Regions from separate parts of the Homo sapiens genome. Here region 2 is linked to region 1. Evidence: fine-mapped expression QTL. Tissue or cell type: whole blood. Region 1 holds a variant in brackets; the other region holds the start of a gene. All regions are shown on one strand. Distances are between the middles of the regions.

What was found. PIP is the estimated chance that this variant, and not a neighbour inherited with it, causes the effect.
Region 2: it holds the start of EPC2, and the variant in region 1 is fine-mapped to the expression of EPC2 in whole blood (TOPMed, PIP above 0.99).

Annotation. Positions count from the first base shown.
Region 1 is chr2:148,687,129-148,695,310 of GRCh38, forward strand. It overlaps EPC2 (enhancer of polycomb 2), which reads left to right. Exons shown (of 14, transcript NM_015630.4): 2 at 3,086-3,245. Among named protein-coding and RNA genes, the nearest start is that of EPC2, 46 kb to the left of the region's middle. The variant G/A (reference allele first, on the strand shown) is at 4,488.
Region 2 is chr2:148,640,825-148,649,006 of GRCh38, forward strand. EPC2 (enhancer of polycomb 2) reads left to right here and starts at 3,927. Exons shown (of 14, transcript NM_015630.4): 1 at 3,927-4,346. The coding sequence starts at 4,194. RefSeq lists silencers at 3,581-4,160, 4,921-5,010 and enhancers at 4,000-4,504, 5,101-5,250.

The DNA.
Region 1 (8,182 bases):
GCACTTGCTGCCTCACCTTGCGCTTTTATGTTATGGAGATGGATTTTTGCCTTCAACCTCATGAGCCAATCTCTGCCATCTTCTAACTTTTTTCCTGTAGCTTTTTCACCTCTCTCAGCCTTCATAGAATTGAAATGCCTTGCCCTGGATTAGGCTTTGGCTTACGGGAATGTTGTGGCTGGTTTGACATTGACCACTGACCAGACCACTGAAACTTTCTCTGTCTCACCAATAAGGCTGTTTTGCTTCGTTATTATTTGTGTGTTCACTAGAGTGGCACTTAGTGAGCTTAAAAAGGAGCAGAAAATGTGGCTTTATAATATTTTGTGATTTCTAGTAGGCAGGTCTCCGTTCTCATGCCACATTTTCTGCTGCTTTTTAAGTTTACTTAGCTATTCCTAGACTTCTGTTCCTTAGCCAAATTTCATGGCATTTTTCTTAAATATGCTTTCTTGATTTAACTTATTCTGACAAAATGCCAAAGAGATGCTGACTATGATGTAGTATAGATGATTATTTGGGGAAAAGCAGGTATGACTTGATTGGATCTGACAAAACGATGCTGCTTGTGGGAGTCCCAATAGCTGCCCTGGCTTACTGTTCACTTGTCTATGGCATAGAAGCTTGTTTGCCCACTTCCTCATATTGTATTTCTTTTCTTTCCCGTTTGTTTTTATGTCTCTGTCTCTCTGCTTTCTTTAACGGTAATTACTGGCAGAAGATCATGAAATTAATTATTTTCTTATTATTTGGTATCTATCCCCCTCTATCATCTTACCTTCCTTTTAAAGTACTAGTTATAATCAAACTAATCTACTGTGTATTTTGCATAGAATGGACCTTCAGTTTAATTTTATTTATGTCTTGCTGAACGAAACTTTTCTTTTTGGATCACTGCACTAATTCCTTTTGTATAATAACATTTCACATACCCTAAAGGCTTGAATGAAATTAAGACCTTCTAATTTCCAAAAAAATGGTGTAATATCTTAGGATTAAGAATTTTGGCTTTGCAAGACTTGGAACCAACCCAAATGTCCAACAATGATAGACTGGATTAAGAAAATGTGGCACATATGCACCATGGAATACTATGCAGCCATAAAAAATGATGAGCTCATGTCCTTTGTAGGGACATGGATGAAGCTGGAAACCATCATTCTCAGCAAACTATTGCAAGGGCAAAAAATCAAACACCACATGTGCTCACTCATAGGTGGGAATTGAACAGTGAGAACACATGGACACAGGAAGGGGAACATCACACACACCAGGGCCTGTTGTGGGATGGGGGGAGGGGGGACGGATAGCATTAGGAGATATACCTAATGCTAAATGATGAGTTAATGGGTGCAGCACACCAACATGGCACATGTATACATATGTAACAAACCTGCACATTGTACACATGTGCCCTAAAACTTAAAGTATAATAATAATAAAATTTTAAAAAAAGAATTTTGGCTTTGCATATATATGTATATCCTGAATTGTGTTTCTGTTTTGTTACTTAGAACTGTTTGACCTCAACAACTTACAAAACATCCTTATGCCTCAGTTTCTTTATATGCATTTTGCATAGCTTGACATATAGTAGGAATCCAGTAAAGATTTCATTTATTCATTCAGTTAATGTATGTTAAGCAGCTTCTATATTTTGGCCATTGTACTAGGCATTAGGGATAAGAAATTAACAAAACAAGCAAAAATCATTGCCTCCTTGGAACTTACTTTATGCTAGGGGGAGAGGGGCAGTAAACAAATGAGATCTTTACTATGATGTTGCAAAGTGGTATGGAGGAAAGTAAAACAGGAAAGGTATGGAGGAAAGTAAAACAGGGAAGGAATGCTAGAGGAGGAGTACTCTTTTAGATTAGAAAAAAAAGTCACGGAAGGCCTCTCTGCTAAGATAAGACTGGAAGCAATTTTGAAAGCAGACCGTTTGGATATATAGAAACAGCAACATCAGTGTGGCTAGAATTAAAGATTGGAGAGGAGAGAGGTTGGAAATGAGATAAGAGAGATGCAGAGTCTTGTAGGTCATTGAGTGAAATTTTTTTTTTTTTTGAGACGGAGTCTCGCTGTGTCGCCCAGGCTGGAGTCCAGTGGCGGATCTCGGCTCACTGTAACCTCTGCCTCCTGGGTTCACGCCATTCTCCTGCCTCAGCCTCCTGAGTAGCTGGGACTAGAGGCACCCGCCACTACGCCCGGCTAATTTTTTTTGTATTTTTAGTAGAGTCGGGGTTTCACTGTGTTAGCCAGGATGGTTTCGATCTCCTGACCTTTTGATCCGCCCATCTTGGCCTCCCAAAGTGCTGGGATTACAGGCATGAGCCACCACCCAGCCATTGAGTGATTTTTAACCTTTACTCTGAATAGGATGGAGATCAGAAATCCTTTATGGGGTGGGTGGCATGACACGATTTACCTTCCAAAAGGTAAAACTGTTTTATTGGGAATGGGCCATTGTGGGGGAAGGGAGGAAGGAGGGAAAATTCTATTTAGGAGGCTATTTCAGTAAGTTGTGGAAGTAATGAAGTGATTAGAAACTGGATATATGTTATAGGAACTGTTCATTTAACCTTTATTTAAAAATATTTTCTGCCCTGGTAGTAATAAAACTTGTTGAACATAATTTTATCTTTCTTTGAAATATTCAGAATTTTGTACTGTTAAAGTTTGAAGTAATAAATGCAGAAGATACTTAAAATCTGTGATACAAATTTATTTCCTGTAATTTGGAATTTTTCTTTCATCTGGTAGTGGTGACAAACACCTCAATTAATCTAGCAAACAGATTAATTTTTTGTAATTGAAATTTTATATTCTAGTTTCTGAGTATATATTTAATTTTGTTTAAAAAATTCTACTTACAAAAATTGTAATAATCTAAGGTGTTATCAGTATGAGCCACGAGTATTAAGAGAGAATGATGACAATGTAACTGTAGGTCTTTGGCAAAGGAACTATTTATAATTGATTCTTAAAGCACTTTGTGATTATTAAACAAAGTAACTTTTATATAAAATTATGCATTGATTAATATTACTAAAACAACTTATGTTGCCTACTTTACATTTTCCAGGAACATCATTTACAGCGAGCAATTTCAGCACAGCAAGTGTTTAGAGAAAAAAAAGAGAGTATGGTCATTCCTGTTCCTGAGGCAGAGAGCAACGTCAACTATTACAATCGCTTGTACAAAGGAGAGTTTAAACAGCCAAAACAGTTCATTCATATTCAGCGTAAGTTTGTTAATTCATTGTTTTCTGTTTGTACTTTAAATTTATCAACCAGTGGAAATCTTTTCTTTTGTCTAAAGAAATTCTGATTTTTTAATTCATACACACTGATTAATAGATATGTTAAACATTAAAGAATAAAATCCCTCTGTGCTTACATCTGAATTTGGAAATCATTTTGAGTTTTAAGTAACATTTGGAACATTTGATATTTATGTAGTATAGGATTTTGTATAGCACTTATACTTTATTACATAGCTAAAAGGTGGTGGATTACTATACCCAAATGAGATTTCCTTTTTTTTTTTCTTTGAGACAGAGTCTCTCTGTTACCCAGGCTGGAGTGCAGTGGCATGATCTTGGCTCACTGCAACCTCTGCCTTCTGGGTTTAAGTGATTCTCCTGCTTCAGCCTACTGAGTAGTTGGGATTACAGGCGTGTGCCACCACACCCAGCTGATGTTTGTATTTTTAGTAGAGATGGGATTTCGTCTTGTTGGCCAGGCCGGTCTCAAACTCCTGACCTCAGTTGATCCACCCACCTCGGCCTCCCAGAGTGCTGGGATTACAGGTGTGAGCTACCGCGCCCACCTGAGATTTACTTTTAAAGGTCCAGTGGCCCTAATGCCCAGGAGTAGTCTTCTGAAATTTTTCAGAATCAAATCTAATGCCTTTACTTTCATATAGTTTTTATTAAAGAATTCTGTGTAGTTCTGCCTCCTTAATACTCTTACTTTTCTCCCACTGTTAGTATTTAAATGATCACCACCTCTAGCGTGAAGACTTTTAACAATCTCCTGTTATATTTACTGTCCTGTATCTCCTGTCCCTATACTCTTCTAATCTAGCTTCTCTCCAAAAGAACTTCTAGAGTAGGATTTTTCAGCTGATTCCACAGACAGATGCTAGTGTCTTGTTATCTTGTCAGGTGTGTAAAAAAGAAATGTTGGATAGCTTGTTAAAATAGAGATCCCAAGGCTCAACATCCGGCCTAGCTGAAGTATCCACCTGTCTGACAACCTACCTGTATGAGAATCTCTGGGTGTGAAGTCTGGTGATTTGTATTTTTAAAGAGTTCCCTGTGTGATTCTGAAACATCACCAGCTTTAAGACTGACTATAAGATTGACTGCTTTTCATTGATTCTGAGATGCACTGTTTTCATCTTTGCAGTGAAATTGCATCTTAAATTGCTGTTGTTCAGGATTGAAGTCTTGTTCTTCTAAAGAGAATTTTCATTTGTTTCT[G/A]CCAGGCATTTGGGGACACTACCAACCGGAGACCACGTTAAAGTTTTTGCTTGTTTGTTTTGTTCATTTGTTTTTGGACCACAGTATTAGCTTTAATTTAGGCTGCAGATCTGCTCAAGGTTCAGTTCTCAGGAAGATTTTTTGCTTCTCCTTTCTACCTAAGGGCAAGTTGAGAAATACAAAATTCTTTGCTTTCCCTTTCTGCATGGCTAATTTATTTCTTTAATCTTACACTGAGGGCATAGCCCTTTGGTAATGTATCTTTATTCAGTAGCATTCTATACTAATATTAACACACAAGCATAAAGCTTTTTTCTTTCTTATGGTATATATAGTAATGTTGTGTCTTTTAATTGATGGCAGTTTAGATTTGATAGAATTCAATAATAGTCATATTCTCTAGTATGAATATTAGGTTCTTTGTAATTTGTTCCCGCTTTCTCCTTTAACGTCATTTATTTTTGCTCTTCCCTTCACTCTGTGTACCATAGGGACTACGAAAATTACCCTCATTCACCTTCTTTCATATTTAACATTTCCTTGGATGTGCTATTGAAGTCTTCTTTCCCTTCCTATAGCTCATTAAAGACTTAACTCCCTTATGAAAGCCACCTTGACTTTTCTCACTCTACCTGTCTTCTTTGCTTATCGTAGTATCTTTTACATACTTCTGTTAGAGGACTCACCATACTTTATTGCAATTATTTGTAACCATTCTTTCTCTCCTTTTAGACTGTGAGCTCCTTGAGGGCAGGAACTATATATTTTATTTTCTTTTGTGTTTTCAGAGTAAAGTGCTTGGTTTATAGATGCTCAATAAATGATGTGTTTGTCGACTGAATTGTTTTAAAATGGCTTTAAAAAGTCTTTTGGTGGTACAGCCATTTTCCACAGATTTCTTTTCTCTGAAATAGTCTAGAGAAACACACATGCGAAAATTATTTATGTATATTTTTTTCTCCTGTGTTCTTTGACTTTGAGTCCTATTAGCTTTTTGAATTTGCCTTTACCTTCTATCAGTCAGGAAGGAGATAACTATTCATAATAGAAATTTTAAGGATCTCTCTTAAGCCAAAGTATCAATTATTTTGTATTTTGATAATATTGCAGTTAGGCAGGAAGACCATTTGTAAAAACCATTCTAGGAAACCAAGAACTAAAAATCGGGTGTAACTCATGTGGGTCAGGCCCATCGAATACAATAAACATTATTCTTGTGTTGGTTTTTTTCATTTCATTTTATTCTATTATTGTAAAAAACAATAAAAATAATAGAAATTATTTTACCTTTCATTTTTTCTTTTAGCTTGTCAGCATATACTGCATACTATACAGTATCTTACTGCACATATGATATTTATTCTGCCTTTCTAGTCATATTTTAAGTTTCTCAGATTTTTATATGTAGTCATTTAAAATGCATATACCATTTTCCATCAGTTTGATATTTCACAATTTGCTTATTGGACTTAAGATTATCTGTACTAAATTTTAAACTCATTACTGATTTTTTCCAAGGAAGGTTAAAAAAAATTTTTTTTATGTAACTTTTTGCTAAGCCTTTAAGGAGTTTCAGAAAATTTCACTCTGGATTTTTCCTTTTCTTCTTTTAATGATAGATTAGAGAGAATCCCCATTCACTTGGCTAGAAAAAAAACATTGTAAAGTTGCCACAGTAGGATGGCCTTGTTCAGGTTCATCACATACTTGCCTGGGCTTTGGCAGAAGCCTCCTTCTTGCCCTAGTCTTTATACCTTCCAATCCATCATCCACTGCCACTGTTGTAATTACTATCCATTTCAAAATTTTCAGTGACTGTCTGTTGACTATAGGATAAAATTTTTAACATCTTTGTGTGATGTATAAGGCACTCCTTTGTGCCTGTCTAGCCATGTTTCCCTATGTGTTCTTCCACTATGACACCAACCTTATTGAAATGAACTGTTTGAGGGTCTTTTTCTTCCTCTACACTGTAACCTCCTCGCGATCAGGGGCTCCATCTTATGGTACTTTAGAATTTTTATTACCTAGTACAGTCCCAGAGTGTAGTCTCAGTACACTTTTCCTTCCTAATTTCTTTAACCCATCATGCTTCAAGCTACACTAATAATGAGATCTTTGTAGCTCTTTGAGTTATGCCTTATTTTGTTATGTCTTCACATAGCCTTTTACTTCTCAACTTGTTAAAATACAACTTGCCTCCAGGATTACCTTTAGGAGCCTTTTTCTGACGTCTCTCAGCATTGTTCTTGGTACTGTTTGCCCCACCCCTCCTGTGTCCAGTGCGTACTTTCGTTGTGGCACTGACCACCTTCAGTTGTGATTGTTTGCCCTCTGTTGGGCAGAGTTTATTGAGAGAAGGGACTTTTTTTTCTTTGAATTTCACTGCCTAGTACAGTACTTATAGCATGTGGTTAGGTGTGCAGTTAAATATTTGCTGAATAAATAAATGAGTGAAAGAATTAATGAAATTAAAAGCATATACTCCATGGCATTTTCGAGCCATCAGTATTTGTTGGACTAAAAATTGTACACAGAATCAAATATAAGGCTAAAATTATTAGTGCATACAGTGAAATTGAGCAACCCGCTGTGTTAGAAATTAAAAGGTGAGTTCTGTTATTCACCAACTGTTAATTTAGCCCAAAAAGTGCCGAGAAGGAGTTGGGAGTGGACTCCAATCTGTTATGAAAGTGAGACAAACATTCTTGTTCCTTCTGATCCCTTTCAGTAGCAGTTCTTCATAGTCACCCTTAATCAGCTTTATGCAGAATTTATTGAATCATAACACATTGAGCTGTCTTTACCAGGTGGGAAGCATCCTGAAGGCACAAAGTCTTTGATGACCTAAGATAGTAAAACACTTCAGTTGTGTGCCACATGCAGAAAAAAACACTACCTACTTTCATTAAGTTACATTTACTTTGGGTTCCTCAACCCAAATGTTATAATTTTCATTCCTCTTGGAGTTCAATAATTTTATTAAATTCAGTACCCAAACTTTTCTCTTTAAGGAAACAACTTTGTTTACATTTCAATAGTATCTTTATTTGATCTCCTATTACCTGTTTTATTTAATATGATAACATTTTACAGTTGATACTAAATATCTTGGAATTGTAGAACACGAAGGAACTTAACATTCTCCTCCCCCCGCCCAAACCCTGGTGACGGAATCTTGCTCTGTTGCCCAGGCTGGAGTGCAGTGGTGCAATATCTGCTCACCACAACCTTCCTCACCGCCCCCACCAGGTTTAAGCAATTCCTCTGCCTCAGCCTCCAGAGTAGCTGGGATCACGGGTGCGTGCCACCACGCCCGGCTAATTTTTGTATTTTTAGTAGAGATAGGGTTTCACCATGTTGGCCAGGCTTATCTTGGACTCCTGGCCTCATGATCCGTGATCTGCCCACCTTGGCCTCCTAAAGTGTTGGGATTACAGGCGTGAGCCATCGCACCAGCCTGACATTGTTTCTTAAGTATTCTGAAGTTAATTTGTATCCAGTTTTGAACTCAGTTAAATAGTTCTTGGTAGCAGGACTCTCTTTTCTTATTTTGAAATGAAAGTTTACTTCCCCCATCTCATTCCCTTAGTCTTACAAACATAGAACAGTAGACGGTCCTGACTGAAAGAAGAGTTCAGGAGAAAGGATAGGTGGAGTAATAACTTGTCATCTGTCAGGCAGAGAGAGGAATG
Region 2 (8,182 bases), 46 kb before region 1:
TGTGGACCCTCTGGAGCTGTGTGTTTTCAAATCTGTTTCTTTTTTTTTTAGTTACCAAAATGCAGAGCTTTCAGGCTGATTATTTTGGAGTCTATTTGGATCCTTTGTGGAGCTGGGAAGTAAATCGTCAGCTTATACACAAGGTGGCACCCTGTGATTCCAACCAGGTCTGAGAGGAGCGATGCTGCTAAGAAACTGAGCCACAGTCACAAATTTTTATTTACCATCTGCTATTCCCACGGTGGCAAATGCAGAGGTAGAAGTAGATGTTTGGCAGGTCACCTCTCAGTGTAGTCTCTGTCCCTATGTCTCAAAGATGCAGAGCTGCCTCAGAAAAGGGCACTGGAACCACAGAACTGATTCCAGTTGATTGTAATGAATGCAGACCCCACATTCAGATTACATATGGAAAACAACGAAGCTTTATTAGTACTAGGCTCATTCCTGGGAACATAAGGGGGAGGGGTGGAGATGCAGTTCACATACTAACCCAATTAACTTTCAAATGGTTTTGCTGAAACCAGGAGCCAATTAGAAAGAACGTGACATTTGCAAAACTCTGAAATAGTTGAATAGCAACTGTGTTTACTAGTTTTAAGATTCCTTTCAAAAAGTAATTTGTCCATTATTTGGAAGCTGCCTGCCTTGATTATAGTACTGGGAGATGGACACTGGAATGTAATCCTAATTCTAACAGTTATTTGACATTTATTCTAATTTAGACTACATTTAGACAGTGATTTTATTTTGATATGGCTTTAAACTGGTTTTAATTCTTGGGTGCTTATATATTATGCTTGCTGGGCTAAATGCATGTCATTTGGAATTGGTCTAGAGCATATCTGAAGTGGACTGATTTTAGAATGACTATACTTAGCGCATTGTATGTGGAAATTAAAATAGGCTATTAGGCTGCACACCCATTTGAGGCAGGTCTTGATAAAAATATTTCATGAGAGAATTTTTTATTTTATAAGAAGATATTTTTTGCTTTTAGCACTAACAATTATATGAGTATTCAACAAATCAATCAGAAATAAACTTTATGAAAAGTAATATTTATATACAAATAAAAGTTACTTTCCAAAAGTGAACAGTGGCATTCCGGTTTGGGCACTGAATTGGAAGCCAAGAAAACACAGGCTGTGTCTCCGTTGAAAAGTATATTGTGTTATTTGCCTTAAATGGTTTTATTCCCAGCTCTATAATCATTGCCTACAGGGTGAGAAGAAAATGGAGATTTGGGGAAGAAATCTTTTACATGGTCAAAGTAAAAGAACAACAAAGAAACAACCACAACAGCAAAAATCCCTTCCTATAAATTCCAGGTTTCAAAAAGGTGTTTTTGAATAACATTAATTGGTTCTAAAATCTCTATGCACAAAGGTACAAAGCTGGACAACAGGGTAGGCCACAGTAAGAACAAATATTGGCAGCAATAGCTAGGTCAGGTGACAGGCCAGTGAGGTATGTGAACTATAAACTAGAGTGGCATGGGGTCAGTATCAGTGAATTTCTTCATGGAATATCAGTCAACAAATATACTTTAGATGCCTGCCATATGTGAGGCATGGAACTGGGGATACAGTGATTGACAGACAGATGTTGTTCCTGCCCTCCTTGGTCTACTGCAACTTTAGGCTCTGGCTTATGCGCTCCCTTGGCCGTTGGTTGGAAGGTCTTAGTAACTAATTTTGAATTAGCAGCTTTAGAATGCTGACTGGTCAATAAGCTGAAGAGCTTGGATAGCAGGGTAGCACCACTGAGAAAACCAGAGTTTTGGAGTCAGGTCAGACCTGAATTTGAGCCCAGTTCTGCAAGTTGTTGGAATTGAAATTTGGCAAATTATCTGATGCTCAGTTTTCTTATTGGTAAAATTATATTTTTTCATAAAATTATAATAAGAATTAAGTGGAATTCAACTAGTTGAGATAATATATATAACATGTTACTACAATGGATGGTATATTACACATACTTGATATTTCCTTTTCTGAGAGAAACAGTAAAACTAAACATAGGGACTAGAAGAAAGCTATCCTTTCTGAACCTGAGGAGGGCTGGGCATCCAGATGAAAGCTCTGGATGACTCATTTCTTCAACTATTGCTTTTTTCTTCCCTTTCAGGCTTGAACCCAGTGCTGACCCCCTCCCAAGAACTTCTTGTTCTTGCTTCCAGAGGATTGGAACTGTTCCAGGGGTAGCACTTAGAGAGCAGGACATGCCCATAAGCTTGAGGAAGGTACTGCTTACAAGAAATGAGTCACAGCAACTCCATTGCTTCCAACAACAAAGTGGATGAAAAACACTCAAGCCCCACTAAACAATACTCGGAGTTTTGCTGCGACAGACTGGTTAGACTATTTGGACACTACCATGAAGACTATATCCACCATTCTGCCTTCAAAGGAGGAGACTGCAGAGAGAAAAGGGGAAGAGGAACAGGAGGAAAAAGGGGGAGGGGAGGAAGTGGAGGAGGGGAAGAAGGACGTAATAGAGGAAGAGATATAGTTTTATTGTCACATAGAAATGACAGTAGGAATCAATTTTTTCACTGTTGGTCTTTAGGAAATCATCTGACTTTCTCTGAGTTAGAGTATGATCGATTATTAGAAAATGGTAAAATGTGTTAAAAACTCTCTTTGTACGGTTTTGTGAGAAATGTGTAATGCTTAAAGACTAACCAAGAGCCTCTTGGCTAAACCAGGTTGATGTCAACAATAGCTAGTACTTATTTGAGTCACCTTGATTTTCCCTCCTCTTGAGAACTTTCTCTAACCAGTTTAGGCTGCAGTCATGCCTCCTTTCCTTTCTCTGAACTCTCACAATTATTGCCTAGATCTCGTTTGGTAATTAATCATGTGCTACTTACTGCCTGTGTCATCTCTTGTATTGTTTTCTTAAAATATTTACACTTTTTTTTCGGTTGTCACTTATCTTTCCAGCTGTCATTTTCTTCAACTATTTACGTCTCTGTTACTCATCTTTCCAGCCATCCTGGCATCCCATTAAGGTGAAAGCTCTCTGAGGCAGGAACCTTTTCTCAGATTTCTTCGAGTCTTCCACAGCACCCCACATTTGACACACATCTGCTACTTCGCAAATGTGTGCTGCCTTGGCTAAATTTTTAGAAGCTGAACTTTTAGGAAAGCTACTATTTTTGAACTCAGAAAAATACCTACCATCCACTAAACAGCTGTACCGAAGTTTGGGTGACAGGGAACCTAAGTTCACTTGTTGCATCTGGCAGCCTCAAACCATGAACCCTCACTGCAAAGCGAGGATGAACGCGCTGCTGCACCTTGGAGAGCTCTTTCGGACAGGTACGGAGGGGAGGGCGTAGAAGAGGGCTGGCACCAGCAGCGCGGTCCAGTCCTCCGAACGGACTGATGGGACTGATGGGAGAGACCTCTTGCACCTCTCGGGGATGTGCGCCTCGGAGGATGCGAATTAGCTTGCGCACAGGGCGCCTTGGGGATAGCGCTGTCCAAGTACAGGCTTGGGTGATGGCTGGTGGGGTCCGGGTCGACATTTTCCCTTCCCGCTCCCGGACTTCTGCACACACGCGCTGCTCGGCGCAGCCGTCTTTGCCCGGCGCCTTCCTCCGGGACACCCAGCGAGAGGGGTGACCGGGCGGCGGCGGGAGAGGCGCACGCTCCCGGGCGCGGGCGAACTTGCGCACCTGGCACCTGCCACACAGCGAAAGCACCGGCCAGCGAGCGGAGGGGCGCCGCCCCCGCCCCCTCTCCCCGGAGCGGACCGAGACCGAGCACGCTCCCGCGGGCCGGCAGCGCCGCGGAGAGAGTGGGTGGGCAGGCGAGGGAGGGGAAGGGAGAGGAAGGAGGGAGGGAGGGAGAGGGCGAGGCGCGTTCCCGCGACGGGGGCGCGCTCTCGCGCGGGCTGCCGGGATCGCTCGCCGCCGCTGTGGTAATGTCCGCCATGTTGGCCATGGCGCAGGGAGCGGATCGGGCGGGCGAGCGGCGGATCTAGTGTGTGGAGGCGGCCGCGGGCGCGGGGGGCTGTTTTCGGGCGGGGTGGGCGCCCATGCTGTGGCCGGGGGCAGTGAGGAGGAGGAGGAGCGGGCCGGCCGCGCTGCACTGAGGAAGGAGGTGGAGGAGGCGGCGGGAGTCCTCCCCCCCTCCCCGCCCGCCCCGCCGCCGCCGCCCGGGCTGTTCCTGTAAGGCGGGGAGACAATGAGTAAACTCTCCTTCCGAGCGCGGGCGCTGGACGCCGCCAAGCCGCTGCCTATCTACCGCGGCAAGGACATGCCTGATCTCAACGACTGCGTCTCCATCAACCGGGCCGTGCCCCAGATGCCCACCGGGATGGAGAAGGAGGAGGAATCGGTAGGGACTCGAGTGTTTATTACCCCCCCTTCCCTCCTCCCCCCTCCCCTTTGTCAGTCGGGCCTCGCCATTCACAGAGCGCTTTACGCTCGCTGGAGGGCGCCGCTGCCGCTCTAACGCACGGGACTCTACGCCGGCGGAGTAGCGTAAACCCTCTCGGCCGGCGTAGCGCCCGCCCGCGGCCGCCATGTTGTTGCGTCCCAGTGTTGTGATTAGCTCGCAGCGCTGCTTACGCTGCCGTAAGGGGGCCTTGCCGTAAGCGGCGGCCGGGAATGGCGCAGGGGATGCGCTGGCCGCTCTTGGCGTACGGTCTCTGTTTACCTTTCCACCTCCCTCTCTCAGGCGCGGGGCTAATTAATGGCGTGGTATTATTTGGCTAGGCAAGATTATTATTTTTTCCACTTTTAACTTTGGCTTTGTATTGAGTTCTCTTTGAAATGACTGTGGAAGGGTGCTTTCAAAACAAACATCTTCCTCCCAGCAATGTAATCATCCTGGCTCCCCCGCCCGCGAAGGTGCAGCGGGATGAGGCGGTGCAGCACTGCGGCGGGGGAGGGCGGGGGCCACGACTACCGAGCGGGTCGTAGCGTCCGAGGGCCGCCCGCCGGCCAGTTCTGCCGACCCGAGCCGGGCGCGGGGCGGACGGGCTCTGCCTGCTCCGCCTGGACGGCCGTGCTCCGTGCGCAACGTTAGAGAGGAGCCGGGGATGCCCGGAAGCGAGCCGCCGGCGTTGCGTTGTCCTCGAGAATTGTCATTGCGAGGTGGTCCTTAGAAGTTGAGGACCTAGTGCATCTAAATTGGCAGTTGTAATTTTGATAATACAGCACCTTTTGGGAAAATTGCTGCTTTTCCTCCGATGGGTTAAATTTTGCAGACGGTTGGATTTCATCTGGCTTGACAGAGAGTGTTTATGACTCGAGTGGTGTTACTTGCGTGCGAAGTTCATAGTAACTGCACCCTCAAGAATTTCTTCAATGAACCTACAGTCCCGCCTTATTGTCAACCTCGGGTGTGTGTGGATTGGTTCTCTTGCTTCAGTGACTGTCAAAAGGAAGCTCGAGGTTTCAGTGATTGGTTTTCTCTTTTGACTATTAATATTGCAGGAAATGCTTTTATGCCTTCGATTGGCTGGTTGAGTTCTGACCTCATTATGTTACCCTGTTAATACTACTTTGCTCTTATTTAATCACATTTCTCTTTGATGTATAGTTACTTGAAAGTCTTACATTTTCAGTAGAAAATGCATATGGCCGTAGCATCGGGATGAACTTAACTGTGTGTGTACACACACAAATATGTAATAGATATATATACACGCACATACACATATATATTTGTGTGTGCATATATATAAATATGTTTATAATCAAAACCCAGCATTTATCCCTAAGGTTTAGAGCTGTGAGAACTTTTTTTTTTGTATGTGAGAACTTTTTTTTTTAATTTGTTTCTAACGACTCAGTTTTCCATGGGAAGGAAAATTAAAATAAAATCATATTATATACAATAGTTAATTACATTGAACCCTAATAAGCACAACTTTGGATATTTTTGCTATTTTGTGGGTCTTGATCCAAAGAAAGATGGCCTTAAAAGTACCAGTATTGTGTGTAATTACTTTGATCCTATTATTTTAGAACTTGAGTCAAATCTGTTCTAGGCCGGGCACGGTGGGTCACGCCTGTAATCCCAGCACTTTGGAAGGCCGAGGTGGGCGGATCATGAGGTCAGGAGTTCGAGACCAGCCTGGCCAGTATGGTGAAACTCCGTCTCCACTAAAAATACAAAAATTAGCCGGGCCTGGTGGTGCGCGCCTGTAATACCAGCTACTCGGGAGGCTGAGGCAGAAGAATTGCTTGAACCCGGGAGAAAGAGGTTGCAGTGAGCAGAGATCGTGCCACTGCACTCCAGCCTGGGGGACAGAGCGAGACTCCGTCCCCCCCAACAACAAAAAAAAGGAAATCTGTTCTAGAGTGAACAGTTAACTCCTGGAAGGTATATTACTTTTTGCAATCACCAACATACGTGGTCCTTAGTATGCCACATATGTTTTGGTATTTTAATTTAGTAAGATAACTTAGAGTAATTTTTTCATGCTTCATTAAAAATAAAAGTGCTTAACTCGTGTTGCAATTTTTTGTTTATTTGTTTTTTGAGATGGAGTTTAGCTCTTGTCGCCCAGGCTTGATTGCAATGGCGCGATCTCGGCTCACTGCAACCTCCGCCTACCAGGTTCAGGTGATTTTCCTGCCTCAGCCTCCCGAGCAGCTGAGATTATAGGCGCCCACTACCTCGCCCAGCTAATTTTTGTATTTTTAGTAGAGTCGGGGTTTCACCATATTGGCCAGGCTGGTCTCAGACTCCTGACCTCAGGTGATCACCCGCCTCGGCCTCCCAAATTTCTGGGATTACAGGTGTGAGCCACTGCGCCTGGCCGCGCCTTGCAGACTTTTTTTTTTTTTTTTTTTTTTTTTTTAATTTATTACCGAGTCTAGCTCTGTCGCCAGGCTGGAGTGCAGTGGCGCGATCTCAGCTCACTGCAACCTTCGCCTCCCGGGTTCAAGTGATTCTCCTGCCTCAGCCTCTCAAGTAGTTGGGACTACAGGCACGTGCCACTATGCCCAGCTAATTTTTGTATTTTTAGTAGAGACGAGGTTTCACCGTGTTGGCCAAAATGATTTCGATCTCTTGACTCTTGCTCCACCTGCCTCGGCCTCCCGAAGTGCTGGGATTGCAGGCGTGAGCCACCGTGCCCTGCCGCGCCTTGCAATTTTTTTATTAGCTCTTTTAGAAAGAATTATTTTCAAACTAGAGCATGAGTGCTAAACTTGGATACTTTTCAGTAGCCTACTTCAATTGCCCAATTTTAAGGAAGAAGAAATCCAAATTCTGATAAAACTAGAGTTGAAACCCAGAACCTCTGATTCTTTGTCCTGTCCTTTCTGCCTCTTTAATACATGCTAAAAGTGGAGATTCTTAAAATCAAAATTAAGCAAACCGTAACAGTTAAGATTTATAGTCTGAAATCTTTTGCTTCCCAGAGTGTCCAATTGGAGTATTAGTTTTTCTTTTTCTTTCTTTTTTAAATATGTATGTCAGAAGACTTGTGTTTTCATGAGTGACAGCAAATTCATTTCTCTGGTCTTACAGGACTTCTGTTATTAAACAGAATTATGTATTTATAAAAATGGTTCTGCCTTGATAAATATTTCTAAGCAGCAGTAAAATGTCATACATTTCACAAATGTTTTGTGTTTCACTTGAATTGCATTTTAAGTAACTTTCAATATCTAGATGTCCTTAACTCCTTATTTTTATAAGATTTTTTTCTTTTAAATCAGTAGGCTTGTAACAAACAAACCAACCTTGGCTTACGGATTCACAATTGTTGCTGGGTGTCTCTGAACTGTGCTGTCCTGCTTGGTTGGCAAAATCTTTTGAAGCCTTCATGGATGGCTTTTTCCCATTCCCCCTCTATCCCCACCCACCCTTAAAATTAAGGCCTGTCTCTTCTGTGTAGCTATTGGACTATCATTAGACTTCGTTTATATAAACAAAGTCATTATTCAAGTTCGAGTTACATTCTGACTGAGTTACATTCTGACAATGCCTGGATGAGGTGATTTAGGTGTTCTTGGGCATTGGTAACATTGTATCATTGATAATCATGTCATCCTGTGTAGCCTCTTCTTTTGGACATCCAAACATCTTTTACTTCTTTTCTTCCCTATCCTTATTATCATTGTCCTCTGCTAAGAGCTGCCAGTTGGCATCCTCCTTTAACTTGGTCTTTGTAATGCTCCTCACGGCACTTGGTCTAGGTCAAGTACTGTACA